Linked DNA regions of Homo sapiens: all the other regions are linked to region 1. The links come from fine-mapping of genetic effects on gene expression. A gene starts in region 1. Each other region holds a variant in brackets. All regions are shown on one strand. Distances are between the middles of the regions.

Region 1 (5,197 bases):
AGCAGCAGAAATCCTAGTTGGACTCCCCTCAGACGATCCCTAAAGCCCAATACTGCAGCCTAGTACCCTATGAAAAACGTCAGGATGTGCAGAAACTGGCTAAATATGGAATAAAAGCCCTGACTTGAACAGTATGAGGCAAGAGAAAAAATATAGGTCCACTTATCTCTAAAAAAACTATAGCTAGCTTTTAAATTCTGCCTTTCTGTGCATGGCCCGCTATCTTTTTTTATGTCCATACTTTACAAGCCAAACAAACCACATTTTTTTTTTGGTATGAGAATGAAATAAATTTAGAGACACTTCTAGTGTCTAAATCCATGGAAACAATTGGGGAAGAAAGAAGACTACACGATTTTCCTATACATCAGGCATTCGTGACAGCAGGGCTCTATTTACCTCCTTCAGAAACCATCTTAAGGCTTCTCTTTAACCCTGGGTCCACCACACGAAGTTAATGAGTCTTCCACTGCAATTTCAAAAGCTATTGCATTTACACACCTCTTCCTCAACCGACAAATCACTAAAGCATCCTAAGGGGTAGCATTAAATTTTATGGTTCGTTGACAGAAAGAATAGAATCCCAAATCACCAATCCATGTGTAATTAATTGTTCATTTCCCCCACTTTTTCTACCTGGTCTCCGTACCTGTCTATATTGCCACCAGGAATTCTTTAAAAAAAACAAAACAAAACAAAACAAAACAAAAAAAAACAAACTAAGAATCACACACTTCAGGAGTGTCTGAAGACTTCTGCATGGAAGACCCCTCACACCATCCAGGAACTGAAGCCCACCAGAGTGAGGAATCAGCCTCCGGGAGGCGAACGAGCACGCTTGCTCTTTCTAATCACGTGTACTAATGAAAGTGGCAGACTAAGGAAAGAGAAACGCCAAGGGTGGCTTATGTGTTTGGTTTTCTTTGCATGAAAGGCAGAAAGCTTTGCCAGGTCTCACCAGCACACCAGGCTATGCAGAGTGGCCAAGGCACAGTTTACCGGGAAGCAAAGTTTTAAAAATCATTCCAGTTTTACACGATTATATCTCTGAATGGACTGCACGGCTTTTGCTGCCTGCATGCTCTTTGCTGTTCAAGAATAAACCAAGTCTTCGCGTACATATACTACCTATACCATTTTTTACAAAAACAACGCTAAGAGTACAATGTCAGCTCAGAAGCTAGGCCGATTCAGCACGTGGAAAGAGGGCTTTATTTCTGCCCTTCTAGATAAAACAAATCCACGTAATTTACCAGAAACCACATAAGGCACCCATTCCACCTAACATCTTCGGCTATGAATGAATGAATGAAGCAAAGAAAAAACCTCTGAAGCAGCCAAACCCCGGCGTGGACATTTAGGGGTCTGACTTCAGAACTGAAGTCTGTTCATCTAGTTAGTTCCCTCTGGCTTGTTTCAGGATACCACTCTCTTGTTCCAACCCAACCACCCGTAGTCCATCTCCATTAACTCAGAATTTTCTGGGTTTGCGGTGACACTAAATGTCACAGTAACGAGGGTTACAGGAATTCGGAAAAGATAACGCTGCTTTCAAAGCCGAGGAGCCAGTAAAACACTACAAACGTCCCCTGCCGGCATGCTCCAGCACACAGCCCGACGCCCTGCTCTCCCGGCCGGCGCTCGGCCGCAGGACCGCGCTGTCCCGGCTCCTCTCGGCGCTCACCATCCTCCCGAATGCCCAGGGCCCGGCCGTCCGGAGCGGCGGCACGAGGACGCGGAACCGCAGAGCGGCTCACACGGTCCCCACAGCCAGATCACTCGGCCCCTGGAGCATGTTAAAAACACAGCCACAGAAGAGGGATTCTCCCTGAAGCGGGGAGTGGGGATGGAAAATGCAAGCGCAGGAGGCCACGTCCGGCTCGCGCGGGAGGGCCGGGGGCCGGGTTGGGCAGAGGGTAACGCTGGGGCCGCAAGGGAACGGCCGGGACTGGCCTCGCTCGGGGCGCAGGGGCGCACTGGCCCCTGGCTCGCACGGGCCCTGGGGCTTTACTTGGCACGGGAGCGGCCGCCCCTGCCCCCCAAAGGTAAAGGGCAAAGAAGGTGGCAGAAACACGGAACCCACGCCCCGCGGAGTGACAGGGGGAAAGGGACGAGGATTTGCAGCCGCTGGTATCAAAGGGCTGAAAAGAAACTTGGACTCCTCTCTCCTGCTGTACATGACGCGTTGGAAAAGCGGTCGCCTCTCTCTCCTCTCCTCCCCACCCCCTTTGTGTTTCCCAACACCCCCATCCCTAAACTTCCAACCGCAGGGGATGGGGCTCCCGGCGGCCGGACAAGACTCGAATTACGACGAGCAGAGAGAGGGGCGACGTCCACGAGAGGGGGCAGAGAAAGGCTGCGGGGGCCGCCCTTTCGGAGCCCGGCGTGCGCAGAGGGGCCGGGTGCACCCCTGCCCTGGGCACTCGGCGCGGAGGCCCGGGACGAGGGCGGGCGACGCGAGCGGAGGTCCGGGCGGAGGAGCGCAGGGGCGGCGCGGAGAGGGCAGGGGACAGGGGCGCAGGGTGGGGGGTGGGCGCAGGGGCCCGGCCGCGGCAGGGCGCTCCACTCACCTTCCTGCCGGCGCCGCCGCCCGCGCCCCCGGCCAGCGCAGAGCCGCCCCCCGAGTACATGTAGTAGGCGATGCCCAGCACCCACAGGAAGGCGAAGCAGAGCAGCATCCGCGAGCGCCGCCGCATTCTCCCAACTCGGCCGCCGGCGGGGCCGCCGCTGCTCGCGAGTGCTGCCTGGGCCGGCCGCGGGCGCGGTGGGGGCCGGGGGAGGAGCGGAGGAAGGGGAAGGGCGCGGCGGCGGCTCCTCCTCCCGCGCGGTGCTACTGCTCGGCGGCGGCGCGCACTCGGCGCCCGAGCTCCGCCCCGGGCCGGCGGCGCCGCGCGGCACCAGAGCAGGAAGCAGCGGCCTCGGAGGCGGCGAGGGGGGTCAGGGAGCAAAGGGCGACCAATCGGCGGCGGCTGCGGGGGCCGGGGCGCGGGCCGCGGGAGGGGACTGCCGCGTCTCCATGGCTGCAGCACGCCGGGCTCCGCCGTGAGGGCCTGGGCGCCGCCCCGCCCCCGGCCGCCCGCCCCTCAGCGTGCTCCCCCCGCCGGCCGCCCCCTCCCCCGTGAGTGACAGGTGGCTGCCCCGGGACCCGACTGGAGCGCGCGCACACGTGGGCAAAGAGCCTTGCTCACGCACACGGGGCCTCTCGATTACGGGGGCGGTAGTGGCCTCGGTGCTTCCTGCCCAGACTGTCACCTCTTCAGCCTTGGTCTTTGGGGCCACCTCAGACCCTTAACGGGCTTGCTCTTATTGGCCAACTGACCTGAGTTTTTGGTGCAAACCGCCCGCTTGAACCCGACTTTGCTGCTGCTTGCTGCAGTTTTCTCACTAATCTTGCAGCAAAACATTCCTGACCCGCTGGTATCGATTTTATTTATCTATATAGGCAGATGTGGAGGTTTTGAGTTGGTAGGAACTGAGAAGGTAATTTTCAAAAGAACATTTTTCTGTGGGTGACAGAGCTATCAATGGTAGAGTTGTTCTTTTCAATAAACACAAAATGAGGAAGAAGGAAAGCAATAATATATTGTTTAAAATCTTTTCTTTCTCATTCGTTGCGTTCTTTAAAAAGCACATTAAGCATCTTTAACGATACAAGAAAACGATCTGTCTTGTAACATAATCTATGTAACCTTGGTGATGCCCTTGCAACACGCAAAGCTTCCAGTGTTCCTAAGAAAGACAGAAATTTTACTTAGAACTTGATATATTAAATGTTTTCAGGAGCTTCTCGGTCAGAGGATAATGGCAGCTGCCTGATATAAGTCCGTACCCATATCCTCAACGAAACAAAAACAAGCCTTCAGCATTACTTAGAGAGAATGCCATGAACTGAACATTAAATTACTTAAGTAGAAGAAAGAAAAGATACCAAATTCCAACTGAGCTCCCTCCACTATTGCCAAGGACTTAAGTGAAGTACAGGGTTGTCACCTCTTTATAAATAGAAAGTCCAACACCAAGAACTAAAAACTGAACAGAGGTCAGGTGCCTTATTGATCAAGGGAAGAGATTTGAAAGAAAATGGGACAAGAGGTGAGAGGCTTGAAGGAGCCTTGTTTCTGGGAAAAAGTCAGATAAATACGAAAAGAAGATAATGTCCTTCAGAGGCCTGACAATGAAGGGAAAGAAGGAAGTCAGAAGGGAAAATTACAAATCCTGCAGAAATGAAAGAGAAGACAGCCAGTCCCCTCCCCAAACACCAACATTATCTATTAAAAACTGCATTTCAGTACACAGATAAAAGAAAACACTCTTGAACCGGGAACCCTGCCTCAAAATGCCTAGTAACAGAAAAACATCAAATCAACTGCATTTAAAGATTCTGCAAAAAGAAAACAGAAATCACATTTCTGATGATAAAAAATAAATCATAACATTTTCGCTGATGAAAACCCCCACAATAAAAACCATGAAGCATAAGAAAATTGTAATACCACATGTCAAACTGAACAAAGTGTCACGTATTTGTATACACATACACACACACACACATATCTAGGATAAGAAATTTCAAGAACTGAAGACAGACTAGACAAAAATTAGGAAGAAATGCAACAAGGGTTGAGCAAATTCAAGAAGGAAATTGAAAGTAATGACAAAAACTATCCCAGAAACAAAGAATAATTACAAGGTGTCCAAGGGAAAATATATTCAAATGAAAATATGTAAAAGGACACTGAAGAATGGCAAGAAAACAATCAAGAAATTGAAAATAATATAAAGATAGAAGTAAAAAGGTTCAGAGAGAAGAGGTTAAAATAAAAGCCAGGAAAGGAAGACCAAAATACATGTTAAGTGGAGTCCCTAAAGTACAAACATTAAACAATAAAACCTAATTAATATTAAAACTATAACCCCAGAAAATAATCCAGGAATAAGGGAAAATTTAAATGTACATGTCAAAAGTGACTTCCATGTACCTTGGGAAATGATCTGGAATTATCAACTCCTAAATATATTTTAGTAAAACGATTAGATTTTAAAGGCAAAAAAGATCAAATTGCTTATAGAGATAAAAATTTATGCTGGCATCAGACTTCTGAACAGCAACATGCAAAGCCAGGCAACAGTGGAGCAGCATTAACAAGGAACAAAAGTGCCAGGCAGGCTGGGCATAGTGGCTCATGCCTGTAATCCC
Region 2 (4,557 bases), 200 kb before region 1:
TGGATACTAAATGAGACATGGTCCCAGGTGGCAGAGGAGGCCGGAGCCTGTTCCAGGCAGGGCCACAGCAGGGACTGGAAGGTGAGGCTTCTGACCATCACTCTCCATTTGTCCCACTCAAAGGGATGAACACCCCTTAATATCGAGGGGCAGCAAGGCCCTTTCCAGTTTAAAACCCCACAGGGACTCACTATCCACTTCCATCCCCTTCCTCTCTAAGCCCCAGCACGCTGCAGTGGCCCTCCCCTCCGTCTGTCTGTCTGTCTTTCTATCGGTCTGTCCCATGACCACCTGCTGCACACCTGTATGACACCGGCGCTGTCACAGAGCCAGGCTCCCTTTCTAGTGGGGAACATGAAAGACACACAAATAAATGTATTCTGCAACTTCAGGCACTATTATGTGCTATGAAGACACTGTTTTTTTCTTGGTTCTTGGAAACAGAGGTAAGGAAAGGAACAAATAGTGTTTAAAGAAGCCTCACTGTCTAGTATCTGTATCATGTTGGAACAAATAGTCCGTCATTAGAAAAACATTAAAAGGTGAAGATGCAGCCCGGTGTGGTGGCTCAGGCCTATCTATAATCCCAGCACTTTGGGGGCCAAGGCGGGAGAACTGCTTAATGCCAGGAGTTCAAGATCAGCCTAGGCAACATAGCGAGACCTTGTTTGTACTAAAAATAAAAAATAAGTTGACCGGGTGTGGCAGTGCATGCCTGTGGTCCCAGCTACTTGGGAGGCTGAGGTGGAAGGATTGCTTCAACCTGGGAGGCCGAGGCTGCAGTGAACTGTGATTGTGCCACTGCATTCTAGCCTGGGTGACAGACCGAGACCCTGTCTCCAAACCGAACTGAACCGAACCGAACCAAACCAAACCAAACCAAACCCTAAAGATTCTAGCATTCAGACCTTATACAACCACTGGCGGGATGCACCATCTCCAGCTCTCAGCATCAGCAGAGGGGATGCAGAGGCACGGACACCCGTCTAGGAATCAGTGAAGACACCTTCACCTGTCTGAAGACTTCCTCCTCCCCTAACAGGGAGGGAGGCTTGGGCAAGCCTGCTCACTTCCCGGGTCTTCCATTTTCTCACCTTTTAATTAGTGTTCCTCACATTCTACTCTGTGAGGAATCCTAGGAAAGACGGATTCTAGGTCAAATGAATTTGGGAAACAGACTTTGTGCTGTGTTTATCTCTCGGAAATTCAGTCTATTAAAGGCTCTGAAGAGTCCTAGAGTAGAAGCACCTGCTTGGCCTGTGCACTGTAGCATTCCAAACACGGCATGGAGGCAGCCCTGACCCACCCAGCCCTGCCGGCCACCTTCTCTGGGGAAGGCCACCCGACCCTGAGTCGAATCCCAACATTCTATGATGCTGTCATTCAACATGGGTGAGTTCCAGCCAGCTCTTCCAAGCACCCACAGGCACTCACGTCACCCATACTCTAGGACAGTGTGACATCATAAAAATAATTATTTGGTCTCTGGCACAATCACAAGGCTCCTAAAACCCTTGTCATTTCCTGAGCCACAGGGGTTTTAGGAGCATCTTTCATTCTAGTGTTTGGTCTTTGACCCCGGTTCCCAACAAACAGCTCCTACTCCCTTGGAATTTATTGGGTGATGGGAGTGTCTTGTTCTAATGAAGCAACTCTAATGGGCTCCTGGACGGGGCTGGTCACCAGAAAGACCAGGTTATGCTGAGAAGCTTGAAACCGTCAGTCCCCCGCCACCCCATCCTCTGGGAAGGGAAGAGGAGCTGGAGATCATGCCCATGTGATGAGGCCTCCGTCAAAGTCCTTGCACTCCGGGATGTGGCTGCCGGACATGCGGAGGCGCTGGGAGAGCGGCACACCTGGAGAGGGCGTGGAAGCTCCAACACCCCACCTCCACACCGCGTGCTATGCATCTCTCCCGTCCAGCTGCTCCTGGGTTTCAGTCTTTCCTAATGAACAGGTAAGCCACGAAGTAAACCGTTTTCCTGAGTTCTATGAACTATTCTTGCAAATGAATGAATTCAAGGCGAGGTCGCGGGAGCCCTGATTTACAGTCAGACAGCAGGTGACAACTTGGACTTGTGACTGGCATCTGGAGTAGAAGCATCTTGTGGGAGGAAGCCCATAACCCGTGGGGTCTGTGCTAACTCTGGGTAGGCAGTGTCAGAACTGAGTTGACAGGCATGACACTCAGTGTCCGCAGAGAATTGGAGAATTGGAGAATTGCTTGGTGTGGGGGGAAAAGCCCACAGGGCTGGTGTCAGAGGTGAGAAGTTTTGTGAGAGTATAAAGGAGGAAAAGCAGCTTTTTTCCTATTCACTGGGTCACAGAGTATGGAAGGTGTGGAGTGTAGAGAGGAAGCCGTGTGTGTTTCCCATAGGCAGATGGCGTTCAGGATGGAGAGGGCCAGGAAGAAGCACATTGTTCCGTCCCTGCACTCACAGGGGCTGGGGACACCACCAGGATGTGTGAAACTGTGGTACACAGAGACGCCCACTCACAGTGAAGAGGAGAGTCCTGAGTAAGAGGGACAACGCTGGTATGGAGAAGGGTTCCAGACTGTCCCTGGCAGCAGGTGTTGGCGGATGCTGGATGGTCTGCTGACACCCAGTTAAAGATCATGTCTGAATGTTTTTACAACCTCCTTGCTATTGTGTGCTTAATTACTGTAAAGCAGACTTTACACAGGATTCCAGAAAAACTAATTCAGCTGGGCAAACAACAGAGCTAGTTGCCGTTTTGTTCTTCTGTTGCATTTCAATTATCTGAATTTGTAAAATAAAGTTCATAAATATTTAAGAAATGCTTTTTTGAGCTGCCACTCTTAAAAGGCATGGCCATTAATTTTCTCATTTCCTGTGTGTCTGCCAAGGCTCAGCCGGAAACCAGATAACAAACCTCACTCTTCCAAAGCA[C/A]CAGGCCCTATTTTCAGTTGGGAAATATTACTTACCCTCTCGTTTCTCATCCGTGTCACACGCTATGCAAAAAAGCATCACTTTCTATCGGTTCAGAGAGGACTCACGCACAGTGGGTTTGTGAGCTGGAATATCTGAGCCGTACTGTCTAATGTGCTAGCTACAGGGCACCCAGGGCCATTTGCATTTAAATTCACCAGAATGAAATGAAATTAAACTTGTAATTCACACTAGTCATATTTCAAGTGCCCAGTTGCCACAATGTGGCTGATATACTGAATGGCAGATGTAGAGCATCCCCATCATAGCACATGGTTCTATTGGAAAGTACTGATAGTAGCCCACTGGCCCCAGACTGGCCCAGGCAGTAAGGTGCTCCCAAGCTGAGGGTGTAACATACATCATGTCATCCTGCCATCTCACATCACATTGTATGTGCTGATGTGTTCATCTTTCCACTAGAAAACGCTTGCTCCTCAACTCCTATTTTTTAAAAATTTTTATTTATTTTTTTGAGACAGAATCTCACACTGTCACCCAGGCTGGAGTATAGTGGTGCGATCTCGGCTCACTGCAACCTCCACCTCCCGGGTTCAAGTGATTCTTCTGCCTCAGCTCCCCGAGTAGCTGGGATTACAGGTGCCCACTACCATGCCCAGCTAATCTTTTGTATTTTTAGTAGAGACGGGGTTTCACCATGTTGGCCAGGCTGGTCTCGAACTCCAGACCTCGTGATTCACCCACCTCAGCCTCCCAAAGTGCTGGGATTACAGGCGTGAGCCACCGTGCCCGGCCCTAATTTATTTTACATTATTTTAGGAACATGGTCTCACTCTGTTGTTCAGGCTGGAGTGTAGTGGTGCAATCACAGCTCACTACAGCCTCGACCTCTTGGGCTTTAGCAATCCTCCCATCTCAGCCTCCTGAGTAGCTTGGACTACAGGCACAGGTCATCACAACTGGCTAATCTTTTTTTTTTTTTTGTAAAGACGGAGCTTCCCTATGTTGTCCAGCCTGGTCTTGAACTCCTGGCCTCAAGCAATCCTCCTGCCTTGGCTTCCTAAAGTGCTGAAATTACAGGTGTGTACCACTACAGCAGGCCAAATCCTCATTTAGAATCACTTGTTAGCTCTTAGAGATCTGGTGGTGCCCTCTGACCCTAGACAAATTAGATCAGGCTCTCTGGGCATAGCACCTGGCATCAGCATTTTGTAAAAGTTCTCTGGGCAGGCTGGTTGTGGTGGCTCACGCCTGTAACCCCAGCACTTTGGGAGGCTGAGGCATGTGGATCACTTGAGGTCACGAGTTCGAGACCAGCCTGGCCAACATAGTGGAATCCCGTCTCTACTAAACATACAAAAATTAGCCGGGTGTGGTGGCACGTGCCTGTAATCCCTGCTACTTGAGAGGCTGAGGCAGGAGAATGGCTTGAACCTGGGAGGCGGAGGTGGCAGTGAGCCGAGATTGCACCACTGCACTCCAGCCTGGGCAACACAGCCAAACTCCGTCTCAAAAAAAAAAAAAAAGCCTGGGCAACACAGCCAAACTCCGTCTCAAAAAAAAAAAAAGAAAAAAAAAATTTCTCTGAGCAATCCCAGGATGTGGCCATTGGAGGGGGACAGAGAGTGAGCAGGGAGTCAGCACT
Region 3 (5,197 bases), 210 kb before region 1:
TGTCAAGCCCCAGGATCAACGTGGAATCCCATCACCTTTGGATTTCTTGTTATACAAGACAACATCTCTTTTAATCTCGCCTCCATTTAGGTGGGCTTTTTATGGAAGCTCTCCAATAGACAATTCTGCCAACTTGAGAGCAAGAAGGACAGTCTCAGGGAAACTCCGCAGCGAATGTGAATCAGTGGCTTCGGTGCCGCGCAAGGGTTCTTTCCACGCCCTTCAGGAGGCTGGCACCTTGTTGAGACTGGGTCTTTATTCCTGAAGAGGAAATCATGGCTACTGCTCTACAATGCTCCTTATAATTGCATCCAGAGTCTGGTTCAAATCTGACTCACCCGTGGGTGTCACCTGGGCTGAGGACCAAAAGGTCTTCTCTGTAGCCCCTGTCCAGACCACCCTAGCCTGGGACCCCAGGAGCTCAGGCAGAAACTGCTAAGCGAACACTCCTCTTTGGAACCCTAGGGGAGACGACAGCTTTTGGAAACAGGATGTATGTTATTTGCAGGCACAAACAATGCATAAAATCAAATACAGCAATTGTATTAGGAGATTGCTGAGAAATAGGCAAGAACTGCTGAGAAGAGAGTTTTTTCTTCTCTTCTGTAGGTAAGTCCATGAACAGAAGAGTGTGTCAGAGGCATTTTATTTTTCTGGTTGAATATTCTTGACAATGTGAAGTTATACCGCAGAATCCAATCACTGAGTTGGGTTGGATATTTCATTCTGAAAAGCGTTGCAAGTCTGACCCTCTCTGCTCCAGTCAGGAACTCCTGTCATTCCCCACCCCCACAGCCTTCCCCAGCATTCACAATGCTCACACACGGGCCCGCCTGCCAGTCTGTCCTCTTCCTCCCAGGCTGTCCCCATCAGGGGATCTTGCTGCTATGTCCTGGTGATGGGACTTCTCAGACGCTGAGCCCCTGCCGGCAACGCTCTCCCTCGCCAAGTCCGAATCCCACAGAACCTTTGAGACACGGCTCCAACAAGGGTGCAGCACCCGCCAGGCCGAGAGCCTGCATTTGGCTTGTCCTATTTGTCACCATTTAACGTGTTTCCTCCTCAGCCTGGGTCTTCTTTGGGACTATCAGCACAACACAGGTTTTCAACAAATAGTTACCGAATAAATAAACCTCTCCCTGTTGCCAGAGCAGGCACCACACACGGGATCCCTAAGGGGCTCCAGTGGGTGCTACAAAACGATGCTGAGAGTTCCTTTAGTCTTCTCAGATGGCAGCAAATTTTTGGTGTCCCAAATAATAGGGAAAGAAAATGGATTACATGTGGTCTCTAGAAGGTTTCAGACACTCATTTGGGCCAGTCCTGCCAGTGGCCAACCTCCTACTTCACCCCAATGTCAATCAAAATTGCTAAATAATTTGGGCCAGGTGCGGTGGCTCATGCCTGTAATCCCAGTACTTTGGGAGGCCGAGGCGGGTGGATCACTTCAGGTCAGGAGTTTGAGACCAGCCTGGGCAACATGGTGAGACCTCGTCTCTACTAAAAATACAAAAAAGTAGCCGGGTGTGGTGGTGGGGGCCTGTAATCCCAGCTACTCGGGAGGCTGAGGCAGGAGAATCACTTGAACCCAGGAGACAGAGGTTGCAGTGAGCCAAGATTGCACCACTGCGCTCCAGCCTGGGCGACAAAGTGAGACTCTGTCTTGAAAAAAAAATTGTTAAATAATTGGTCAAGGTTATGTTTCCTTGAACCCTTGTGGGGCTGTTCAAATGTAGGTACTTTTGCTTCTGTTGTTGAGATGGGAATCTTACTTCGTTGCCCAGGCTGGTCTTAAACTCCTGGGCTAAGCGATCCTCCTGCCTCAGCCTCCTGAATAGCTGGGATTACAGGCACGCACTACTGTGGCCTGGCTCAAATGCAGGAATTTAAAAGGTACCGAAGGTCAGGTGCAGTGGCTCACGCCTGTAATCCCAGCACTTTGGGAGGCCGAAGCTGGCGGATCACTTGAGGTCAGGAGTTCAAGACCAGCCTGGCCAATATGGTGAAACCTCATCTCTACTAAAAATTCAAAACATTAGCCAGGTATGGTGGTGAGTGCCTGTAATCCCAGCTACCTTGGAGGCTGAAGCGGGAGAATCGCTGGAATCACTGAGGCGGAGGTTGCAGTGAGTCGAGATTGCGCCGCCACACTCCAGCCTAGGTGACTCCGTCTCAAAAAAAATAAAATAAAACAAATAGTATCTGAAGAACCTCAGAGACGCCTGGATGGAACCGAAGAGCCCCAGGTAACTGGTAAACAAGTCTATAAATCTTAACTACTTGAAAAACTGTAAAAATATTTGTCCCCTGGTTTGGAGCACAGGGTCTGGGTGCGAGTGCCAAGGGCTGGCTCCAGGCAGGTACACAGGAAGGACGTGACCTTGAGCAGGCTAGCAACTTCCTTCACCAGCTTCCCCTGTGGCTGTAAAATGCAAATGTATTTAAGGGCTTGGCTGGGTGCCTGGCACATCATAAACACTCCACAAATGATAATGATTATTATTACAAGTAAGAATAACCAACCAAAGGGCACAGCAATAAAAGCGCATCTGCAAAAGGTGATAAGAAACAGCCACTGAGCAGGAGCTGCAGAAGGCTGACCCCAATCCCAGTCCCCACACCCACCCCACCCAGCCCTCACACACCAGGACAGACTCTGGCCAGCAAAGAGCGGTATCTAGAAAGTATCTTCTCTTTATTTAAGTTAAACAATTTTCAAGGATGGTTTCCATCTATAAAATGGACAAAGTACAAGCTCTGTACAGCAGTTCTTTTTAAAAATCAACTGGAAAAAAAAATTACCAAACTATATTTTGAATTTGCAAAACATACTCACAGATACCATCATCTGAGCTTTTATGAGGACATAAGAAAGGACCA[G/C]CACAGAGAAGACAACTAACTTCGGCACGCTTTGCTCGAAGGGCTCTTAGGAAAGAATTCTGAGTTTTAAAAACAGGAGTGGGAGGGTGAGATAGTCCTGATGATTAAAAACTAACGCAACCGCAGTAAGTCACTTTGGCACACTGTGTCATGTAAACATAGCTCACCGCAAAGGACCCCTCCCCGGCCCACCCCTGCTCTTGACGCCCGGACCATCCAAAGCCGCCTCCCAGCTCAGGGACAGGACGCCGCCCCCAGGGCATGGGCCGCACAAGGGTCTGGGTAGACACGTGGGATGATAGGAAGGCTGAGAGGGCCTAGGGGTGCGGGCGGGGTAAAGGTGAAGGGGCAAAGGATTCGTCAGAAAACGTGATTTTAAAACGAGCCAGATTCATCCATTTCCCTCCTTACAGTAGTAGCAGCTCGCAGGTCACAGGGTCTGACAGAAGAACCTGGGTGCTGGGGGCTACGCACACCCTGCTCTGGCCTGCACTCCACAGCCTCGCACAGGTACCTAAGGGGGTTTTCCTCAGGCTCCCCCCGAGCGCCCACCGTGAAAGACAGAAGCGTGCGGAGTTACTCCAGCGTGGGGGCACGCTGCCCACTCACAACACATCTGGTTGCATGGCAGGGGAGGCGGGAAGAGAAGACCTATAGGGCAGCCCTCCAGCCAGGCTTCCACCTCGGGGCCGCTGTCCTACAGTGCACACATGTGGGGCTCCCGCCGGGGAGGAAGACACACAGTGGCCCCTTTCATACAAGACACAGGGAGGAGCATGGCACCGGCACAACCTCCCAGGGTGGCTCCTAACTCCAAGGCCGCCGCTGTCCCACCGAGGGGCCTGCAGGTGTGCCTAACTGACGCTTTTCTCAGACTGCCAGGCCGTGCCAGCCTCTCTGAGACTGAGCATCTGTGTGTGCGGCGCTGGAGAAGGCGGCCAGGAGTGGAGGAGGAAGCAGGGCACCGACCACAGAGTGGCAGGGGTGACGAGGAACATTCCTGAGCACCCAGGTAGAAGCCAGGCACCTCTCCCCGTTATGACTTTCAGTTCATAACTGTCTGTGGTTTAACAGGACCCCAAGGCTCCTGTCTCCCGCCCTGAATCCTCAGTGTAAATGAGCAGGTATTGTTTGGTTCTGACCCTTCCTAATTCTTTCCCCAAAGCCCCCTGAAGCAGTCATCTTGGCCAGGCGGGGTGTGGGAGGGAGCTGCGGGCGGGGCAGGACTCGCTGCCTGGCTGGAGCTCCCCAGGCCAGCAGGTGTGCAGGACTGTGAGCCAGGCCTGTGCCCTGGCTGACGGGCTCATCCCTGACACTGCTGGCCATTAATTCTGAAGGCCCAGCGTGCAGGGCTCAGATCACAATGAAGCCAATACTAGCGTGTGACAGCTGCCTGGCATCATTGGTCTGCCCTGTCGCCAGGGGGCAGCGGTATTGCTGGCTCACACAGAGCTATGGGGTATGTCTTATATTCCTTAGAGAAAAGAAATTTAATGTAAAAAGACCCAAAGTGATATCTGTCAAAATAAGTAACCGCTCCAGGTTCACAGATACGCACAGCACGCAAGGTGGATTCTGACGCACAGTAGGGACTCTCAGGCTGACGCCCAACAGGGATGCCGGGGCCGAGGCCGGTGGTCTGGAGGAAGCCCCCCAGCTGGCCACAGCAGTAGCACCAACTGGCTGATCGGGCTCCAGGGGACAAAGGCCACCTCCTCCCTCTGTGAGAAACTGGCCCCACCGGGCTCTGGCCCCTTCTCCCGGAAGCTGCGAACGGCTTTGTGGGGAATATACAAGATGACGATGATCTACAGAAACCATAGGGAACTGACCGTACATTCTTTCTCTATATAGCTTTATATTTAGTGTCCCACCATAGAAAACTTCATCCTCAATATAGCAAGTACATGAGGTGGAGGGGAGTCTGGCCCAGGAAGACACTTGCGAATGGAGGAGCAGAGAGAGGGACTATTGACGTAAACCTGCCACGTGACACGACTCGGCTTTGTGGAAACCATACGTGATTTCGAAGGGATTGAAAATGGAGATTTCAAGAGTTCTCCTCGCTCCCCTGGGGCATGTGTGCCCCCTCCTCCCGCCCTGTCCTCAGCTCGCACGCATCCGTTCAGTTGCTTCTACCACTCCCCAGTCGGTTGTCGCTGGGTGTCACTCAGTTGCGGAGCCGGCAGAAGTGAAAGCTGGAAGGAAGAGGGGCGCTCCGGCCTGGGGAAGGGGGCCCGGCTGGGCTGCACCGAGAGGAGGGGGAGGGCAGTTCTCGCTTCTTGCCGCTGCTGTGTCTGCACAGTCGTCCGTGCCT
Region 4 (5,197 bases), 83 kb before region 1:
TAGACATCCATCCCCCAAACCATGTATTTAAATATATACGTTATATAAATACATGCACGCCCATCCATCCACATACGGTGTCATAAAAGGGTACCTACTCTTACATGTATGATGTGCTCCAGTATTTTCTATTTAATTATTCATCATGAATACTGATGTTATTCTCCTCTATTAGTTTCATGATCTACTGAGTCACAACTTACAATTTGAAAAACCTTGCCCTCATCTTTGAAAGAGTCAGGTTCGAGATTCTAGCCAAGTGTCGGATGCGCTTACAGGCCATGGTTCCAAGCCCGACTGGGGATTCAAAGAAGTAAAAGGGAACCCATCAGCCTGAGCCCCCTGAGAGCTTTACTTTTGTCAGAGGCATGTGAGCCAAAGCAACTCCATCTTGAATAGGAGTTGGGTAAAATGAGGCTAAAACCTACTGGGCTGCATTCCCAGACAGTTAAGGCATTCTAAGTCACAGGATGAGATAGGAGATCGGCACAAAATAAGGTCATAAAGACCTTGCTGATAAGACAGGCTACAGTAAAGGAGCCGGCCAAAACCCACCAAAACCAAGATGGCCACAGGAATGACCTCTGGTCGTCCTCACTGCTACACTTCCACCAGCACCATGATAATTCACAAATGCCATGGCAATGTCAGGAAGTTACCCTATATGGTCTAAAAAGGAGAGGCATGAATAATCCACCCCTTGTTTAGCATATCATCAAGAAATAGCCATAGAAATGGGCGACCAGCAGCTCTCGAGGCTGCTCTGTCTATGGAACAGCCATTCTTTTATTCCTTTACTTTTGTAATAAACTTTTCACTTTGCACTACGGACTTGCTCTGAATTCTTTCTTGAGCGAGATCCAAGAACCCTCTCTTGGGGTCTGGATCGGGACCCCTTTCCTGTAACACTGGTTCATCTGTAGTTGAAGCCATCAATGAACTGAGGAGCTCTGCTTTCCTTCCTTAGCTTACGTGGTGGGCACAGGGACATGTGGGGAGATCCTACAGAAGAAGGCACTGCTGTAGAGAGAATCAGAAATTCTCCTCCCAGGGCTATCTTGGGGAGGCCGGGTAGTCAGAAAATCATTGCTTCTTCAGGAAACAGCACTGTTTACAAAACAACTAGACCATGCATTACTTCGAGGGCATCATCCTGTGCCCCAAAGCCACCTTACATATCTGGCTTGGCCATCATCCTGAGCTTCCTGGAGGCACTACGTGGACAATCCGACCCTCATCTTCTACCATCACCCTGTCACGGGTGTGCAGCGCTGTGCTGCGATGTCAACGGTGGTCAGAGCAAGTGACACAACAGTGCGTTCTACTGGGACACTTCTCCAGGGGCCTTCCCTCCAGGAGGACATCCCGGAGGTCCAGAAAGCTGCAGGGGAATGGAGGGAAAAGACAACGGTGGCCACGGTGATCGTCAACTGTAATCATTATGTTGGCAAAGCTATAAAATCAAACCCAGGACACCACACAAGATCCTGAACATATTTCCACAAGAGGAAGAATATTGTGCTCCAGGCAACCCAGGTAGTGCACCTTAAATAGGAAAGAGTTCAACAAGTCACACAAAGTTACAGACACCTGCATGCCGGGTGCACCAGCCTCGTCCTGAGGAGTTGAGAATGGTGGCCCTGGCTGGGAATTCTCTAAGTTGCTCTGCCACTGGGAAAATAGATTCCTTAGGGAAGCAAAGAAAACGATGGATTCCTTTGTGCTCAGAAGACAGCAGGCTTCCATCCAGAAAACTGCACAGTCAGGGCCAAGCAGTCAAAGCCCCCATTCTGAACGCCAAATCCCTGGGTGGGAAAAGGAGTGTGTGTCTGTGCCTCCCGCCATCCTAGAAGGCCAAGGAGAGGCTGAATGTCGCAGCGCATTCTCTAATGAGGAGCCAGGCACTCCAACTGCTCCACAAAGGTGTCTTAGACAGAATTATAAGTAGAGCTTAAGGTCTAAAAACAAACAAACAAAACAAAAATGCTCTACCAAAGAGATGAGACTTTCCTTTCAGAATCAAGTCACACATCCCTCCCCAATTTCCAACTCCAACTCTAACAGAGACATTCACTTCTCTGCAAAGGTTGCGGACAAAAACAAAGCGGGCAGAAAGA[G/A]GAAGTGGAAGGAGTTGTTGTACTATGTCTTTTTAAAGCAGCTGTTGGAAACCGTTTCAAAGGTTGAAAAAGGATTTTTGTTTTATCCAAATATAAGTTTCTGAGAAGAAATATGACACCTTGGGTGATGTATGAAGTCATGCCTTTGATTCCAAGCCTGTCAAGCCTCTTCTGAGTGTTACATCTCAGGCTTCCTATGGTGAGGTAAAGAGGGAAGCTTCGGTACAGAAAAACGGCAGCACACGGAGGTAGGCAGCTTTGCAGTCACCAAGCAGGCGATGGCTCTCCTGGCCCCAGGGCGGAGCCAGTGCATGTCTTTTAAGCCACTCATGGGCTCCGCATCCAGGAATGGAGAGCACCCTCCTAGGTCTCTGCCTCAGCAGCCCCACAAGCCCACCCAGCCATCCTCACCCTGGGGTCCATCATACTGTGTGGCTGTCAACCTCTATTATGGTATAATTAAGAAAGACACCAACGGTGTTGAGAAGCGTTTCTGAGAATTAAATCAAGAGTGAGAAGCCCTCAGAGGCACCCCATGTGTCAAGATCAATTGATCTGATGGCCACCGGAGAAGCCCTGCTGAAACAATTCGGCAAATCTGCCCAGAGACGGCTCTGCCAGTCTCTGGAGACAGAACTCTTAAAGAGGCAGGAAAGACCAGAGGGAGGTTTTGCAGTTATTCACGCCATGCTATTCTAAAAGTGAGGAGGGCTTGGCTGTAATTTCCCACTCTGGACATTGAATGATTCAATGTATCTGTTTATATTTACATGGCTGAGGCATAAAACAACAAAACAAAAAGCCCACTCCCACCTCATTAAGCCCACCTAGGTAACACTGTGGCAGGACGCACACAAACCAATCAGGCGGTTTTTAAAAACCCTCAAAATCTAAGGTCCCTCAACCGCTTGTTGCACTCAATACATGCCCCTGTCTACAGTGGCTCATCCTAGAATCACTACTACAGAGAAGGACTATGTTTAGGCAGAAATCTTGCTGCCCTCAACGCCAGACCTAAGAATCACTGCAATAATAGGATGCTCAAACCACCAAGCTATTGGCAGCCTGTAAGAGAAACACCCTATAAAACAGCAAGCAGGCAGCAACCATCACCCACCCTCCAGGGATGTTCCTGAACCCAGTGCTCAACCACACAAGTCCAATCTAGGTGGCCTCGCAATGTCCTCCCACCCGCTCCAGGAGAGACAAGGTCAAGACCATAAAATGACTTCAGGAGCCATAAAAGCAGAAGCAGCACCTTCTGAAATCAAGCAATCAAGAATTAAACAAGTAGGCTAGGCTCAGTGGCTCACGCCTGTAATCTCAGCACTTTGGGAGGCTGAGGCAGGTGGACTGCCTGAGCCCAGGAGTTCGAGACCAGCCTGGGCAATATGGAGAAACGCCGTCTCTACAAAAAATGCAAAAATTAGCTGGGCGTGGTGGTACGTGCCTGTGGTCCCAGCTAGTCAGATGGCTGAGGCAGGAGAATCATTTGAGCCCAGGAGGTCAAGGCTGCAATGAGCTGTGATCACTCCAGCCTGGGTGACAGGGCGAGGCCCTGTTTAAAAAAAAGGTGGGGAGGAGTGGGGCTGGGTATGGTGGCTTATGCCTGTAATCCCAACACTTTGGGAGGGTGAGGTGGGTGGATCTCTTGGGCCCAGGAGTTTGAGACCAGCCTGGGCAATAGAGCGAAACCCTGTCTCTACTAAAAATACAAAAATTAGCTGGGCATAGTGGTGCACACCTGTAGTCCCAGCTACTCGGAAGGCTGAGGTGGGAGGATCACCTGAGCCCAGGGACATCAAGGCTGCAGTGAGCTGTGATCACACCACTGCACTCCAGCCTGGGCAACAAACCTTGTCTCAAAAACAAAAATAGAAAGAAAGAAAAAAAAAGAAAACAAAACCCCTTGAAAAGGCTGACCCACACCCTGGAGTTAACTCCGGAAGGCGAGTGAGGGACCGCTAGAAGCAAGGCGTGGAGCCGCCTCTGCAGCAAGGACAGAGAGCACTTGTGTTAAACGAGGGCTTTCCAGGGCTGTGGGACCTGTTGGATGCACCCAGGTTACCTGTGACTTGCAGATTTAGAAAAGGAGTCCACAGTGAGGAAGGGACTGTGCTGAACTACTCCAGCCCTGAAAACGCCCCCTTTCCCTATCAGGTTTCTGGCTTCAGCTCTAGGAGGAAAATAACGCAGTGCCACAGGGCTCTCCCTCTGAGTGCACTGTGCACGCCCCGAGCTGGCCACTGATCTGGTTGTGCCGGTGGGCAGCCCTTCACCTAAAGTCCACCTCGTGGCTCTCAGCCACGCAGCGCCACTGTCTTTTCAGATTTGAAGCTTTAAAGCGGGATGGGGAAGAGTGTGGGCAAGTGGGAGGCATGTGTCCAGTGGGGCTGGACACACACACAGGTATGTAAGAGGGCTGCACCTGTATGTAATAATACAGTGACTATCCTCGAGGTTGCTGAGTGATCATAGTTTAGGAAACTAACTAAACAGGGACAGTGTCTGGGGACAGAGCGTTTGCCCTGAAGGTGTGGACGTGTGCTAGGAGCATCTACCACTGCCAACCTCCAACAAGCAATCATGCTTAGAAATAGCAGCTAAAGACGAGCTCTCTTCATGAAGCCTGCAATGCCTTCCAGGCTGGGAGCCAGAGGTGACCCACAGGCAGAGCTGAGGCCCTCACTCAGGAGACAGAAGCTCTCCTTCAACGGGAAGAGGGCAACAGGGCAGGAAGGAGGGACTCTTGGAGGAGGAAGGCAGCTTCTCTCAACAGTGACTGTTTAGCCTCAACCACTGCAGGGGAATGTGGCCACACCACTAGCCAGCCACTGTTCGCAGAATCGAAGAGTAGGCCAGGAGTGGCCCTGGCCTGAGATTATTTTACAACAGAGAAGAAAAGAAAAGCCCCCGCGGGACCAGGAAAGGAGAACCAGTGGCCAAGCCAGGCACACGGCAGAGCAGGCCATGCTTTCAAGGGAGAGGCGACACCAGTCTCAGCCCACAGCAGTCCCGTGGCAGGGGCTCTAGGAATGTTGGCCAAGAGTCAAGGACAGCAAAGTGAATATAGGCAAACC
Region 5 (5,197 bases), 160 kb before region 1:
TTGCAATTCTTAAGATGGCAGTGATTATGGCCTGCAACACAATATACAATTTTTAAAAGTGGTAAAAAACAACCTTGCCTTGATCCTATCTTTAAATTGAACACAAGCAGATTTTTATCATTAAGCTTTGTGTTTGCCATAGATGTTTTACAGATGCCTTTCATCAGGTGAAGGAAACTCCCTCACAAGTGCTGAATTTCACTGCTTTCCCTCCTGCATCCATTAATATGACCTACAGCTATTCTCCTTTAATTCACTGAGAAGATATATTACATTATTTTCTGATATTCAATCATTTTTACATTCCTAAAACAAACTCTTCTTGTATATATATATATATGGCTGTATTATATAGCATATATATATATAGCTGTATTATATAGCATATATAGCTGTATTATATAGCATATATAGCTATATTATATAGCATATATATATATAGCTGTATTATATAGCATATATATATATAGCTGTATTAGATTTGCTAGTATTTGGTTTAGGATTTTCTGAGTCTATAACCATAAATTGAACAATTTGCTGTTCTTATACTTTCTTTTTCTGGTTTCATAGCTAGATACTACTGAAGGAAATAGGGTAGCTTTCCTCCTTTTCTATTCTCTGAAACAGTCTGGGTTTTACGCAAACCCATTTGAGCTTTGTGAAATTTTGGGAAGGCAAATTTTTTATTGCTGAAAATTTCTTTTGATGGTTTGCACTTATTCATTTTTTTATTTCTTAAGAGACTTTGGTAACTTAAATATCCCTAGAAAATTATCAATTTCATGTAAGTTTCAAATTTATTTACATAAAAGTATACTTTTAATTTTCTTATGATCTTAGTTATATCTGCTTTTTTACACCTAATATTAATGTTTCTTCTCTATTTTTGTTAATCAGCATTTTTAGAGATTTATATTTTTTAAAGATGAAGCTTTATATATACTCTCCACTGGATTTTTAGTTCATTAATTTCTTCTTTTACCTTCCTTATTTCCTTCCTTCTGCTTTCTTTAGGTTTACACCCTGCAGTTTTTTCCACCTTCTTCAGTCACAGAGTGATTGATTTCAGCTACCCTACATAAGGAAAAATGGTTAAAAATCCAAGCAAATTCTACAGCTGGAGAAACACAGGCAGTTTTCTCAACCATGAGATGGGTGAGTGAAATGGGGAGGGGGAGAAATGTCCGCGGGTGCGATGACTGGCTCCCCTAACTTTGGGAGAGAGTGGCGAGGCCCCTGCCTCTGAGCCAGGTCAAGGCACCTGCCTCCGCATGTGTTCGGAAAGATGGAGCAGCCCAGGGAGCCCTGCAGCCACGTGGACCTTTCCTTCTCCAGCCAACACAGCACCTGAAAGTCTGCGAGTCTCCATGTGCACCCATCAGCCAGGTGAGATGAGCCGAGAGAGCCTGTGGGGGCGTTAAATTAGCCAGCAGGGCCAGAAGTTTGAAAAATCAAAGGAACATATTAAAATACAGTCTGTTGCTTGCTAGCCCATTTCTCCATTCATATACAGATATTCGGTGGCAGGGGGAGGGTGTTAGCACCTCAGGATGCTGGAATCAAGGCTCTGGACACAGCTGGTGATGCAATAGAGGCGGTGAATGCCTTCTGTTTCCTTGCCCTCATCCACAGAAAATGCTTACGCCATTCCCATTTCAAGGGAAAGAAAAGGGCAGGAAGGTCTGTTGTTTCACTGACCATCCTGGCAGCCTGATGCAGCTGCCCATGGACACAGAATGGACACAGAATGTCCATATATGCCTCTGCTGTGAAGGTGGGGCTCCAGCCAGGCTAGAGCCAACCGCAGGCTGGGCGCATGCTCCTCATTCAGGACTCTGATTTGCTTCTGCGGTAAGGGCAGTTGCTTTAAGGCCACAGACTTCTGATTATCACAAAGCTCTGACAGTTTAGTGAGCATAAGACTCATTCATGGAGCTTATGAAAATGAACATGCCTAGGCCCTGACTGCTTCTCCCATCCCATTCTGAATAAGTAGGTCTGGGTGATACCTGGGAATCTGAATTCGAAAAGGCCCCTGAAGGCAAGGCTTATACAGGTTGCTCTTAGACTTCATTTTAAGAAACACACAGAAAAGTGAGAGGTGTTATTAGTGAAACAGTTCTCTAATGTGGAGCCATAATTAGACTCATCTGGATAACTTGAATTTAGACCTGGAACTCTGGTATGGACCATATAGCACAGAGGTTAAAAAAAAAAAAACAAAAAAACTCTGCCTCCTCCAGATTTTGATTTCCCATTCCTCCTCTCTACCACAATCTGACCCCCTGTGGTCACCATACATGAAGTGGCCCAGCCCACGCTGTGTTCCTCAAAGTCTACCATGACTATGAAGCCTAACACAGAGAGAGTCAAGCCTAAGCCACTGGGAATAAGGCCCAACATGACCAGGCTGAAAAGATCTAGCCCAAGCTGGAGACTGGATCCACCACAAGGCAGAAGGGGCCACGGGAAACAGGCCCTCCTCAGTCCAACCCCAAACTGGGCTGCGGATGCATCTCTCAACCTCAGGGCACTTCCACTAGGGCCCATCCCAAACAAGATGTTCAGCTTCACATTTTCAAGATGTGTTGCTATGGTGTCTACAGAAAGTCTAGGCAGGCTACTGGATAGAATGTAAACTGGAAATGGAAGCCAAAAAAAGGAAAATGGAAAAAAGTTCATTAGCTGTTGTATAATGTTCATTTAATTAAAACATACCCTTAATAATCCTCCAAACAGTCATAATGGCATAATATTCCACCAAATCCACTAATTTCTGATTAGTCCTAATAGCTACAGAGTTTATTTCTATAGAGGTCTTTCAAAACTAAACAGAACCAAATCCTAAGACATTAAAAAACCTCTGCAGGACCTCTGTGAAATCAAGCTTCTTAAAAATCTGGTCAACAGGAGAT[T/C]TGAATTAGCTCAATTAATAACTTTAGGTTTGTCTCACTTCGAAATTATTCGTCTAAAATAGCTTTCTTGAATACCGCAGGCTTCTGCATTCTGCAACGTATAGGAGTCGGAAGCATGTTCTAAAACAAAATGTTTATCCTCCCTGTGACACAGGAAACTCAAGCCTATCGTATTTACTGTACTCCCTTTGAAGTCCTCTAATCTCATTGAAAAGCCAAGGGTTCCAGAGGCAAAAAACATGCACACACACTCAGGCCAAGCGGAGAATCCAAAAACACACTCTTCGCTCACCAAACACTCCACGCTTCGGCACCGGCCACAGAAAATGCTGCCCAGAATACGTGAGTATTCTCCAACAGAAGGGGAAAAACATTAGGTTTCCCCTTGAAGCTTTCAGCAAGCCACTGTTTGATGGAATAAAAATGTTTTTTCATTCAAAGAGCACCATTTGCCCTTTAGTGCCTCCAGTTTTACAGACACTACATTTTAGCTGAAAACTTTTCAAGAGTCAAGAGCTATTGAAAGTTGAGAAAATAACAGCCCTGGATGAAGCCGTCTGAACTCTCTCGTCATGCCCTCCGAGGGCTGCACTTCAGCTGCCAGGTCCCACTCACCATTTAAGGCTAGAGTCATTTCAGAGAGACTAAATTATTATTGTCCTTTAAACTTTCATTCCTCCCGATGCCAGGGGACAAGCTGCCTTTTCTGGATGGAAGCTCACACTGCTCATCAGACAATGTGAACACTGCACATTCCATTTCTTCCCTCTTGCTACTCCCCTGGGACAAGTGGCACCCTTGGTCCTGCTAGAGTAACTCCAGTAACTCCCTCTGCCTCCTGGTGCCCACCATCGTCCTCTTGGATACGTGAGTTCTGGTTTCCAAGCTGAGGGTTTAGTTTTTACTTCCATTGTTCCATGAAGAGATGTGCTTTCATTTTTATCTGCTCTGCCTGTCTCAAAGTGGTGAATCCTTTAGAGCACCCTTCTTAGAGGTTATTCAGGCAGTTGGTTTTCTTTCCTACCCTACTCTTGCAGTTCTCCCCACAAAAGCTGGGCCAGATAATGGAGTCTGTGGGACCCCTGAGCAGTTCTGATTGTCCCAAGTGGACAGGAGAAAAGCTTAAGTTCTGTGGAGGGTGACATTTTAGGACACCACTCTTTTCAGATACACTGAATTGCTCTGTTTTGGCCTGTGGTTAAAAAGACGAACTTTTCGGCTAGGCACAGTGGCTCACGCCTACAATCCCAGCACTTTGGGAGGCCGAGGCAGGAGGATCACCTGAGGTCAGGAGTTCAAGACCAGCCTGGCCAATATGGCGAAACCCTGTCTCTACTAAAAATACAAAAATTTACCCGGTGTGATGGCGGGTGCCTGTAGTCCCAGCTACTCGGGAGGCTGAGGCAGGAGAGAATCGCTTGAACCTGGGAGGCGGAGGCTGCAGTAAGCCGAGATCACACCACTGTACTCCAGCCTGGGTGACAGAGTAAGACTCCATCTCAAAAAAAGTAAATGAATAAAATTAAAAAAAAAATGGCTAAGAGTCTATTAAACTTTAGACCATCAGGTTGGCTTAAAAATCAAAATATATGTGTTACAAAAGATAAACCTAAGACAAAATGGCATCCAAAAAAGAAAAAAAATCAGTAAGATACAAAAATGTATCAAGAGTAAGTGAAATAAAGTAGGAGATTAACATTTATGCAAAGCAAAATGTATGGCAAAAAAGGAAAACTTGTTCAAGGACAGCCTGGGCAACACAGTGAGAGCCCATCTCTATTAAAAAAAAAAAAAAAGAAAAGAAAAACAAATAAAGTGGGGTAATTTTATGTCAATAAGGGTATAATCCATGAATATATATCTTCTAAGCCCCTCATGCTTAGAAATAAGCAGAAACTCCTAGCACTGTAATGTTGAGTTTCAAATGCTTTTATCAATAACAAAGGTTTTGAATGTAATCGATCAGGTTGGTTGAACATGTATATTTGAATTTGGAAATGAGTATAGATGTTACTAGCTTTTAAAAAATACCCATCAAATATTCATAGAAATGAGAAGTAAAGATTGCAGCCTCTGGGGGCAGGCTGTTGTTTAGACCTCACCACAGCCTGGTTAATGGGGCAAGTTCTGTTTCTCTAACTATCAAATCTTAGTAACAATAACAACAGTACCTATGCCTCATAGGGTTGCTGTGAGAATTAAATGAGTAATGTGTGTAAATTGCTTAGCATAGCACCTGGAACGAAAATCTCAATTAAAGGTAGCTACATCTCATGCCCAAA
Region 6 (5,197 bases), 70 kb before region 1:
TCATGGGGCAGGAGGAGTGAGGCGTTGCTGAAGGCAGAGGCTGAGACCCTGAACTCCAGGCTGCACTGTGCTGTCTTAGCCTAGAAGAGGGGTCTTGGTGTGTCCCATGCAGCTTGGAAGTTGTGGCAGGGAACCGAGAGGGATAAACTTCTCATCAGAAGGGACACATGTGGCCAGGAAGGAGCACTTGGCTTCAACGATAACATCGGGATTCTTCAGATTTAGCAAGAGGACCCTGATTGTTCTCATCTAAATGTCTTCATTTAAATATAAATCTCTGAAATGGGGATTATTAGATACCTTTCAAACAGTAAGGTGAGGGGACCAAAGCCGGGTAAAGTGGCTGTCAATGGTCAACAGGAAGTAGCAGCTAGAAAAAGCCAGAAGCTCTTGTTGGTCTCCTCACACCATAACCCCCGTGAGGGTAGACACTGAGTGCTCATGTCAGATGTGTTTGAACCAGAGTGACTCCATCTTGAATAGGGTAAAATGAGGCTGAGACCTACTGGCTGCATTCCCAGGAGGTTAGGCGTTCTCAGTCACAGGATAAGACAAGAGGTCAGCATGAGATACAGGTCATAAAGAACCCACTGATAAACAAAACAGGATGCAGTGAAGAAGCTGCCAAAACCCACCAAAACCAAGATGGCTACAAAAGCCACACCTGGTCATCCTCACTGCTCATTATATGCTAATTATAACACAATAGCTAAAAGACGCTCCCATCAGTGCCATGACAGTTTACAAATGCCATGGCAACGTCAAGAAGTTACCGTAGATGGTCTAAAAGAGGGAGGAACCTTCAGTTCCAGGAAAATCCCTGCCCCTTTCCCACGAAACTCATAAAAAGCCCACCTCTTATTTAGCATATGATCAAGAAATAACCATAAGTATACTCAGTCAAGCTGCCCATGCCACTGCTCTGCCTATGGAGTGGCCATTCTTTCTTCTGTTTCATTTTTTTTTTTTTTTTTTTTGAGACAGAGTCTCGCTGCATCGCCCAGGCTGGGGTGCAGAGGCGTGATCTCAGCTCACTGCAACCTCCACCTCCTGGGTTCAAGCGATTCTCCTGCCTCAGCCTCCCAAGTAGCTGGGATTACAGGCACGCACCACCATGCCTGGCTAATTTTTGTGTTTTTAGTAGAGATGGGGTTTCACCATGTTGACCAGGCTGGTCTCTTACTCCTGACCTCAGGTGATCCGCCCATCTTGGCCTCCCAAGGTGCTGGGAATACAGGCGCTCTGAGCCACCATGCCTGGCCCTGTTTATTTTCTTAATAAACTCGCTTTCACTTTACTCCATGGACTCACCCTGAATTCTTTCTTGTGCAAGATCCAAGAACCGTCCTTTGGGGTCTGGATGAGGACCCCTTTCCAGTAACACTTGGGCAATGGCAGATGAAAGGAGAAGAGGCCACAGACAGAGGTCTGGAAAAGACGCACGCAACGACATGCAAGGTGTTTTTTCTATTAAGTCATCACTGAACAAATTCCAAGGAGAAAAAGGTAAAATGGATGCAGGAGGATTAGAATGAAGCACTACTGCTTGTAAAACAAATCAAAACTAAGAACCTAGGAAACGATAATAATGCTGTTTAAAGACTTGAAGGAAATCTCTATTTCCAACAACGTCAACAGAAATCAAAGGAGAATATATTTCACTTTTCAAGAGTGAAAGATAATAAAAGTCAAACCCTATACAACATCAATCCTGAGCCAAATCCTATCTTATCTCTACTTTTTTCTTCTCCTTTTCAACGTGTGTAGCTAAACCAGGTTGCAATCTAGAGCTGGACTCGTCCAGAAAGCCTGGCAAACATCCACAGCTGTGACAAGATGCTGACGAGCCTGTTGCAGTGGGGTCTTGATGCTTCCACTGGGGAGGAATCAGGAGAATGTAAGTAAAAAGCAATGAAACTTCTGCAAATAATTAAGTAATTCACATCCACCCCTTGAAGAGAAAATAATTCCTCCCTTGTCACTGTGACAGCCTCGGCTGGCTGCCCAGCTGAGAACACCCAGCAAGCACCCTCTCAGCAAAGCCAGGTGGGGAGGGGAGAGGTCAGCCACTGCAGCCTGCAGGCTCTCTGACCATGGGCACCTCCACAGCAGACCCTCCCAGCCACCAAGGACATCTGGCCCAAACACAGCATGAAGCAGAAGTGGCTTCGGCCATATCCACCACCTCTGTGCAGGCTGTCACACAGAACCAACCCCACCCCAGCCTACGTGAAGCTCCATGCTGGAGCCCCAGAGCAGCGGGACAGATCACTGATTCCCTTCTATGAAGCATGTGTGCCTCCCTGCATCCACTCAGGCTCCAGTGAAAAGCACTATTTGGCTCCCCCAAAGCTTATTGGGTGCAGGCGGGGGTGGGAACAGTCCACACGCCTCAGCTCCACTCCCCAGGGAAATGAGTATGAAAACAGGAGCTCCAGCAGGAAAGAATCAGCCTTTTGGTTCAAGGAAACGGTCTCTTAGCTTCGGAATAGCCCACTGACTATGGAAAAATGCTCTCGCCCCCAACCACGCAGGGCCTGTGTGTCTGGCTTCGCTGTCCGTGAGGTGAAAGCATCCGTGAAGCAGAGTCCCGGCTGAACTGCGGGAAAAGCAAAATGCACAGA[C/T]GGCCGGCTCTTCGGTCTGAGGGTGATTTCAACCTGTTCTTGTTGAATGACCTTGGACCAGATAAATGCCATTGAGCTTCCCGTACAATGGCACTAGCAGCAACCTCTTCCCACTCGCCTCTCTCCAAGTCCCTGTGAAGCTACAAACAAGCGGTGTTTGGAAAATTCTAATAATAGCATCAAAGCGGAACGTTGCCCCCGTTATTTCTGAAGTCCTCTCTCAGACCCAGCGCTCCTGAAGGGGCGCGGCAGAGCAGAGCCGCTGCGGAGTGTGTGATCTGAAGACAACGCCTCCCTCATTAGGGCTGGACATATTCCGACAGGGCAGGCTGTGGCTCTGGATGGGGGGCAGTGAGGGGGTGCATGCATGTGCTGGAACTCACATCCGGGAGAGAAAGCGCGGCAGACAGGCCTCACGAATGAATGTGTGTTTTGAAACATTAGGTTCGATGTCTAAAGAGTACAATTCAACAACTCAGGCCACCAGGAACAGGCCCCACTCTCTCCTGGAGCTCTATGGCAGGGTTATCAGAGGATGGCTGGTGCCAGACATGTGCTGACAGGGATCTGGGACAGTCAGACCAGAAGCAAATGATCAGGCGCGACCCAATCAACGTGGCACTAAAACAATGCGTGCAGGTTCGATCATAGTTACCTGACCCACCCCCAGAAGAGTGAAAACCTAAATTTCCTCTGCTCTGTCACCCTCCAACTCCTGAGAAGATGGGAAGGAGGTGACGCTGACTAAGTGCCTCCTCTATACCCAGGAAACTCTGCTAGGGCTTACACATGCAGCTCATTCAATTCTCCTGACAACGCTCCAGAATATATCCTTTTATCCTCACTTTACAGAAGAGAAAACTAAGGATCAGAAAGAGAGCACTTGGCCAGGTACAGCAGCTCACGCCTGTAATCCTAACACTTTGGGAGGCGGAGGTGGGGAGCTCGCCTGAGACCAGGAGTTCAGGACCAGCCTGGGCAACACAGTGAGACCCCCATCTATAAAAAAAAAAAAAATGAAAAAGTTAGCCAGGCGTGGTGGTGCACACCTGTAGTCCCAGCTACTTAGGAGGGTGAAGCAAGAGGATTGCTTGAACCCAGGAGGTCGAGGCTGCCACACCACTGCACTCCAGCCTGGGTGACACAGGGAGACTGTGTCTCAAGGAAAGGGAAAGGGAAAGAGCATTCATCTGAGATCCCTCAAGTGATAAATGGCAGAGACTGAATTCAAATCCAGAGCCGAGCCTGCCAGACTGCAAAGGGCCCCCCACACTCAGCTCCACAAGGGAGCAGGAAGATGTGCATGTCATTAAGATCATTTTGTGCCTCCACCTCCCCGCCGTGTGATTTCCACACAGAAACCTGATTCGGATGGCTTCTGTGGCTCATGCCTGACAATTCACCGAAAGAAAAGTAAAAAGCACCTCAGATGAATTCAGAGTTTCTCTGTTAGCACAACGGAAATGAGATGAAGAAAGCTGGAAAATGGTTTCTCTTCTGAAACATGCATCGCAAAGTAGAATTACAAAGAGAAAATAGAGCCACAGGAATCGGCCCAAAATGAAGATTCTGTATCATTAGAGAATAAAATATGGGTATCCATGACTGTCTTCCTCTACACCCCTCGCATCCCCACCCCCGAGTCTAGGACACTGTCTCTACCATTTCTCACCCCCCATGAGAGTCAGGACCAAACACCAATTCCAGGATGCATGGCTTTTCCTGTTCCGACATCTCTGAAATGGGGAATGCATCTTAAAATTGACAAAATGATGGTGCATCTTACAACCCTTAGCACCTAAAGGCTCAAATTAATACATTAATATTGCTTTGAAATTATGTGAGGGCAATGCTTTAGATGATTTGAAACACTCTCAGATACTTCCTCTCATTTAAGCCTCACAACAGGCAGGCCAAATAGGTTTTTAGTTCACACTGATCATACTTAAATACAGCGGAGAAACTGGCTGACACAGACAACTCAGTGATTTGTCTAAGCAAGTGGTAGCACCAAGACTGGCCTTGGATTTTCTGAGCACTGGGTCCACGGGGAGGAATCCAATACTGAAGTGCAGATGACACGGGAGAGATGCTGGTGGGCTTGCCCCGATACCTCACCTGCTCGCTGCTGTATCACCCCACGCCCAGCTCCTCTCAGTCACACAGCCAAGCAGGCGAAGAGTACAACTGTGAAATGTCTCATGAGCTGATACAGAAGGAGTTTATAAATATTGAGCACTACTGGCCTTAAAAAAAGCTGCTCCTCTCCACCAGGTCTGGGTTGGATACCCTCCTCCTGGGCCCAACCCAGAATGAGGGGAGGTTTGAGAGGGATACACCACAGATAGATAGATACAGCTTCTCTGAAACCAAAGAAATAACAAATGGTTGTCTCACCTGAACAACTGGTTAGGAATTGGGGGAAGGGGATAAAACCAACTTAGAGCTGCACTTCTCAAAAATACCAAATAGGCCAGGTGCAGTGGCTCACACCTGTAATCCCAGCACTTTGGGAGGCCAAGGCGGGCGGATCATGAGGTCAGGAGATTGAGACCACCCTGGCTAACGTGGTG

Evidence for each region. PIP is the estimated chance that this variant, and not a neighbour inherited with it, causes the effect.
Region 2: its variant is fine-mapped to the expression of GALNT2 in whole blood (TOPMed, PIP above 0.99).
Region 3: its variant is fine-mapped to the expression of GALNT2 in blood mononuclear cells (TOPMed, PIP above 0.99). The same link has a PIP of 0.9 or more in T cells, fibroblasts, lung, monocytes and whole blood.
Region 4: its variant is fine-mapped to the expression of GALNT2 in whole blood (INTERVAL, PIP above 0.99).
Region 5: its variant is fine-mapped to the expression of GALNT2 in esophagus mucosa (GTEx, PIP 0.99).
Region 6: its variant is fine-mapped to the expression of GALNT2 in cerebellar hemisphere (GTEx, PIP above 0.99). The same link has a PIP of 0.9 or more in cerebellum.

Annotation. Positions count from the first base shown.
Region 1 is chr1:230,064,780-230,069,976 of GRCh38, reverse strand. It overlaps GALNT2 (polypeptide N-acetylgalactosaminyltransferase 2), which reads right to left and starts at 2,739. Exons shown (of 16, transcript NM_004481.5): 1 at 2,571-2,739. The coding sequence starts at 2,696. RefSeq lists enhancers at 930-1,009, 3,364-3,523 and silencers at 1,924-1,983, 2,424-3,233.
Region 2 is chr1:230,269,070-230,273,626 of GRCh38, reverse strand. The region is part of intron 14 of GALNT2 (polypeptide N-acetylgalactosaminyltransferase 2); the gene reads right to left. LOC124904542 reads left to right here and starts at 1,517. Exons shown (of 5, transcript XR_007066928.1): 1 at 1,517-1,957; 2 at 3,902-3,992. RefSeq lists an enhancer at 4,383-4,557. The variant C/A (reference allele first, on the strand shown) is at 2,913.
Region 3 is chr1:230,279,602-230,284,798 of GRCh38, reverse strand. It overlaps GALNT2 (polypeptide N-acetylgalactosaminyltransferase 2), which reads right to left. Exons shown (of 16, transcript NM_004481.5): 16 at 2,677-5,197. Among named protein-coding and RNA genes, the nearest start is that of PGBD5, 140 kb to the left of the region's middle. RefSeq lists an enhancer at 2,340-2,499. The variant G/C (reference allele first, on the strand shown) is at 2,881.
Region 4 is chr1:230,147,394-230,152,590 of GRCh38, reverse strand. All of the region lies in intron 1 of GALNT2 (polypeptide N-acetylgalactosaminyltransferase 2), which reads right to left. Among named protein-coding and RNA genes, the nearest start is that of GALNT2, 83 kb to the right of the region's middle. RefSeq lists an enhancer at 2,140-2,369. The variant G/A (reference allele first, on the strand shown) is at 2,118.
Region 5 is chr1:230,222,706-230,227,902 of GRCh38, reverse strand. The region is part of intron 3 of GALNT2 (polypeptide N-acetylgalactosaminyltransferase 2); the gene reads right to left. Among named protein-coding and RNA genes, the nearest start is that of GALNT2, 160 kb to the right of the region's middle. RefSeq lists enhancers at 855-1,354, 1,355-1,856. The variant T/C (reference allele first, on the strand shown) is at 2,916.
Region 6 is chr1:230,134,305-230,139,501 of GRCh38, reverse strand. All of the region lies in intron 1 of GALNT2 (polypeptide N-acetylgalactosaminyltransferase 2), which reads right to left. Among named protein-coding and RNA genes, the nearest start is that of GALNT2, 70 kb to the right of the region's middle. RefSeq lists enhancers at 1,584-2,084, 2,085-2,585. The variant C/T (reference allele first, on the strand shown) is at 2,625.